2 separate regions of the Homo sapiens genome follow, and region 2 is linked to region 1. Evidence: fine-mapped expression QTL. A gene starts in region 1. The other region holds a variant in brackets. All regions are shown on one strand. Distances are from middle to middle. Region 1 holds the start of ENPP3 (ectonucleotide pyrophosphatase/phosphodiesterase 3). Region 2 overlaps ENPP3 (ectonucleotide pyrophosphatase/phosphodiesterase 3).

Region 1 (2,926 bases):
TTGTAATTTTCATGAGAATAAAGATAAATTGTTGGCTAAGAATGCAGATAAGGAAAAAAGTCATAAAATGAAAATGTCAATGTCATGGTAGAAGCAAGGGGAGAGAATAATTCAGAATGAGAAAGTACCAGGAAGTTATTGTTGTTATGAACACTCAAGTGGATGAAGGACGAGGAGGACTGACTTTTGAGTCAGGGACTCAGTACAGTAGAAACAAAGCCAGAGCACAAAGGAATGGTTGGGGGCTGAGAAAACTGAAGCAATGAAATGAGCCCTCTTTACCCCAAAAGTTTGATGGCAAAGGGAAAAGAGAGAGTAATAAAATCAAGGAAATGGATAAGCGTATTTCTGGAGTAAAAAGAAAAAGAAAAAAATTTAAAATTAAAAAAAAGAAAAAAGAAAATAAAATCAAGGAAAATTTATTTGGGGGGTGAGGGGGGGTGGCAGATCTTACCACATGAAATGACAAGAGAGAGAAAATAGGCAAAAGAGACTATCTCTAGGAGTGAAGTAAAATAGGATACAATTGTTGGTTCAGCAAATAATAGGGTACAATGATTTTAATTTCTCACTTTCTTGTCTTAAAATACTCATGCAATAAAAAAGTGATTGAGAGGTAGTTATAATCATGCAAAAAATCAGCGCCACAAAGCGTTCTGTCATGGATTCCAACTTTTGAGTTTAACGTAATGTTAACTTGTTGTTACTCAAATTTCTTACGTGTAAAATATGATTTAAGATATTAATTTGCATTAGAGTTTTCATAAGGGATAATACTGAATACAGTTACTTAAAAGTTTACATTTTAATAGCAACACAAAGAAATGTAAATGGGAAATCATATACTTTTAACATTTGTCACAAAACTAGAAAGACTAAAAATAAGAATTGTACTTACAATGCAAGCTATTTTATATTTCTTAAGAGTGTTCTTCTTAACAGGTTGTTCCGTTGCTAAAGTCAACGTAGATTCCATTGTCCTGGTAGCTGCATAGACCTGTTTTATCAGAATAAATTAGTGCTCCTTCTTTAGTCTAGTCTGGCAAAGAGAAACTGTATGAGTTACATAGCTGTGCCTGACTTTTAACTGTTTAGGAAGATCACAGCTCTTCAGTGATTGGGCAATCTGGAGAGAGGAAAAAATGTTGTAATAAGAATCGTGTGAAAAGATTAAAGTTCATTTCTAGTATATTGCAGACAACTGCTCCTTTTTTCCTTATAACTTTTACTAAATACTAGTCAAGACATATATAACAAGAATAACACAATCATCAAATTTTAATGCAATCCGATCTTCTGTTTTCTTTAAAAATAACCCCGAACAAAAAGCCTTGTCACAGAAATTTCAGACTTTCCGCTTTTCTATAAACTTCATAGCAGCTGAAAATCAACATAGCAAAACATGTGCTTTGACAACAGTAGAAATTCTGAAACTCTGCTGAACCAATATAAAGTACTTAGTTCTGTGATAATTATATCTTGCTTTTTACAGTGTTCACAATTTGACAAGTTTTTATACACATTAGCTCAAGTCAAACTTAAAAATATCCCTTATAAACATTTTATTCTTGTTTTTAGATGAGCAAATTAAGGCTCTGATTATTTAAATTAAGTTATTATATATGACTTATTGCTCAAAATTATTTACTAGGTGCCAGAACTAGAACTGATACCCAAGACTTCTAACTCCCCAAATCCAAGCAATTTTCACTAATCAATTTAAATTCACTATTTTCTTATGTATCTAGACTGGTGCATCCTAGCATGTGTACTCCATGCTGAAAAGGGGTTACAGTTTGGTGATGAAAGAAGCTAAATTAATAATAGTGTTGGTCAAAGAGAATTTTAGCAAATAGTGGATGCTAAACTCTTCTAGTTTCAGTGACCCTAAGGCAGTGATTCTCAAAGTTTGGTTCCATGGAACATGAGTTCTATGACAACCCCCTTGGTTAAATAAAGCTTGAATACTCCTCTAATGAAAAGATTATCAAAATCCTGTAGACTGCAGTACACCCTTTGGAAAACACTACTCTAACTAACTAAACTCTTCCAACCCTAAAAGCAGTGAGAAAAAAAATATGAAAAGAATGTATTCTAATATAAATACAATGACTGCATCACTACTCTAACTAAACATGTCTAAATCATAGAATTTAGACACTATTTCTGAAAATCAGGGGGAAGAGGATTGCTTGAGTCCAGGAATTTGAGACCAGCCGGGGCAACATAGGGAGACTCTGTCTCTATAACAACAACAACAAAAATTAGCCAGGCATGGTGGTGCATGCCAATAGTCCCAGCTACTGGAGAGGTTGAGGTGTGAGGATCCCTTGAGGCCAGAGTTTGAGGCTGCAGTGAGCCATGACAGATACACAAACAAGCAGAGACAGATTTCAGACAAAGACAAGAGAGGGGGTGCACTCGGGCAGAACAGACTCAAAACCCACTCAAAACCTGATCTTAACCAAATGCAAAGCAGGTGTATAAGCGAGCCCTATTGCTTCCCTGGCAGTACCAGGCAAATGGCTTAACAAGCCCAGATGGGAAAATAATAGGCTCCTGGCATAAATCTGGTTTTACCCTTTGAGCGCGTCCACCCCGATCTCCGTTATTCCCCAGTAGGGAGAGGGACGTGTGGTTTTGCACATGGGATAGCCCTGGGGAGAGTCTCCAGGAAAACCTCACCCGGCAGCTGCTGGGAATCTCCCGAAGACTGTCTTGTCACAAGGAGTGTGAGTATTCCTTCGTTATCTTGTCATGCTTCAAGGCCCAGGAAGGCCTGGGAAAGAGTCTTGGTGGGCCTTTGTTACTTGTTCTGGACTTTGTGTAAGGGCACTGGCTCTCTCAGCCTTTAATATTTAACCTAACCATTCAGTCAGTGCTGAAACAGTTATTATGGAGGCCTGCCTGTTTGTGAGACCTGGCC
Region 2 (2,926 bases), 81 kb before region 1:
CAATGTCAACTCAATGACTCTTACTCTTTCCACCCTATTTAAAGTTTCTTACTGCCCCCCAGGGTACCCCAAAATACTCCCAATTTCTCCCTTACTCTCCTTTACTTTTTCTTTATTTCCCACAGCATTTACCTTCTGACATAACAAATAATGTATTATTTTATTATTCCTACTGTCTGTATCCCCCTCTTAGAATAAAAGCTTCGTGAGGGCAGGATCTTAATCTGTTTTGTTCACAGATGTATTCAAGAACCTTGAACATTGCCTATAATAAAATAGGTGTGCAATAAATATCTGTTTTAAAAAAGCAGTAACTAGGCTTAACATCTGAGTAATGAAATAATCTGTATGACAAACCCCCATGACAGATGTTTACCTATGTAACAAACCTGCACATTCTGTACATGTACCCCTGAACTTAAAATAAAAGTTAAAAAAAAAAGCAGTAAGTTACCTCCATGCTCCTAAACTCATTGTTATAACCATGGTTGCCTCCTCCACAATTTGTATTTGATTTACTCCTATAAAGAAAAAATATTATTACACACTGATCAATATATTGATATGAGACCATAGTGTAAGATTTAACTAATTTTATATAGTTTCTGTAAATTTTATAAGTAAATTTTTTTATCAACAACAGAATAATATATTTTTCTATCAACAACAGAATAAATTTTTATATCAATAATGAATAAATATATTTATTTTCATGCTCAAATTCATAACCATAATGGAACAAACAGAAGGGTACGAGAGAAGAAAGGAAAATTCCAGGATCTATAAATAGAATTCAAAAGTCTCTGACTGATAGATACTGACTAAGGCTAGTAATAAAGGTACATATTTTAAAAAAAAATGAATTTGTCTTCAAGCTCATGGGTGTACCTTTACACATCAATGACTATATGCTGAAGAATAGTTTGGTTAATATGTTATTTTAGCATTTCAATGCTTTAGGAATAAATCTTTGCAACTGGGGAAAAATATCAATTTCTGTTTTCCAGTGAAGATGTCTAGGAAAATAATATGAAAGCATGAATAAAGAATAGGCAGGGCAAGTTAATTATAATCCAGTCATGCGTTGCTTAAGGGCAGGAATATGTTCTGAGAAATGCATTCTTATGCAAGTTTATCATTGTGGAAACATCACAGAGTACACTTACACAAGCCTGGATGGTACAGCCTTCTACGCACCTGGGCTATGTGGTCTAACCTATTGCTCCTAGCTACAAACCTGTACAGCATGCTACTGTACTGAATACCACAGGCAGCTGTAACACAATGGTAAGGATTTGTGTATCTAAGCACATGTAAACATAGAAAAGTTATAGTAGAACTATAGTATTATAATCTTATGGGACCACCATCACA[C/T]AAGCAGTTCATTGTTGGCCAAAATGTTGTTATACAACACATAACTGTACTTGGTAAAAAGAAGCTAGTATATTCTGTAAATTCAGAGATTATTATTATAATTATGTTTACCTTTGTGATTTTCTTCCATAGGCTGTAGCTTTATTATTTGAATAAATTTTCAAATTTAATTAATTAGTTTTTGCCTACATTTTAATACTGTTTTGAATTGAGCAGTATTAACAATTTTATAAGTAGCTGTTTTTCATACTTGGAAAATAGCGATAAATGAACCTAGATCTTTTAAAGCAACAATGTTATACTGAGTCAAATTTGATCTCTGAAGGGAACAAAGGACTCCTATTTCCAAAGGCTGGCCCTAAAAGATTCTCTCATTTTCTTCCCCACCCTCACCTCTCACCCCAAGGGCAAATACACACACACACACACACACACACACACACACACACACACACACACACACACACCCCCCGCAGGGTTTCTGTTTGTTTTTACAAACTCGACTCGACTAACAACAGGACAGTAATTTAGTGTCTTTAAAAAATCAACATTAAAAAAATTCATAACTGACTCTAATTCAGTTTAAATAGAAAATAAAAATAAATCACAAATTAAAAAATAAATCACAAATCTGACCAGGCCACACTCACTCAACTCTACCCAGTAGAGGGAAGAAAAGAGAGGCCAGGTAAGTACCTGGAATGGGGAAAGCAAGACAAGTCCTGATTCAGAAGGAAATTAAGTTTGATATCCTAAGGATGTCACTTCATTTCCTTATCTTAGTTAATGCCAATAAAATTGCTGGCATATGACAACTATAGGTTTTATTTATTTATTTATTTATTTTTGAGACTGAGTCTCGCTCTGTCGCCCAGGCTGGAGTGAAGTGGCGTGATCTTGGCTCACTGCAACCTCTGCCTCCTGGGTTCAAGCGATTCTCCTGCCTCAGCCTCCCGAGTAGCTGGGACTACAGGCATGTGCCACCACATCCAGCTAATATTTTTGTGTTTTTAGTGGAGAGAGGGTTTTGCCATGTTGGCCAGGCTAGTCTGGAACTCCTAACCTCAAGTGTTCCACCCATCTCAGCCTCCCAAAGTGCTGGGATTACAGGCATGAGCCACCACACCCGGCCTCTATTTTTTTAATTATAAATAAATAAATGTTTTTATTCTTACTGCATAGATATTTGGTTTCCCAATATTAATGGAATTATTTAGTAGGAGGTAATTAAGTTTTAAATTCTGTGTGGAAAGCTAGAATGTTCATTAATGAAAGAAAGAAAAAGGTTTTTTGACTAAGTTTTTTGGTAAATTTTCTAATGCTCGTACTATGGTTATTTTTCTATTTTCAGAAAAATCTAGTTTTTTAAAATATTTCCATCTCCTAATCCAGCTCAATTTAAAAACTATAGTAAATATTGCAAAATTTCATTCAGAAGCAAAATATTAAAATATTGTTTGAAAACTCTCTTTTCTATTTATTTCCAAGTAAAAACTTTGGAAATTTGCTCTCTACCTCCTCATGTTCATGTCTAATCATTAATTTAGCTTTG

Evidence for each region.
Region 2: its variant is fine-mapped to the expression of ENPP3 in whole blood (INTERVAL, PIP 0.95).

Annotation. Positions count from the first base shown.
Region 1 is chr6:131,635,435-131,638,360 of GRCh38, reverse strand. ENPP3 (ectonucleotide pyrophosphatase/phosphodiesterase 3) reads right to left here and starts at 1,059. Exons shown (of 25, transcript NM_005021.5): 1 at 899-1,059. The coding sequence starts at 976. RefSeq lists a silencer at 2,331-2,420.
Region 2 is chr6:131,716,267-131,719,192 of GRCh38, reverse strand. It overlaps ENPP3 (ectonucleotide pyrophosphatase/phosphodiesterase 3), which reads right to left. Exons shown (of 25, transcript NM_005021.5): 16 at 455-521. Among named protein-coding and RNA genes, the nearest start is that of CTAGE9, 6.7 kb to the right of the region's middle. The variant C/T (reference allele first, on the strand shown) is at 1,375.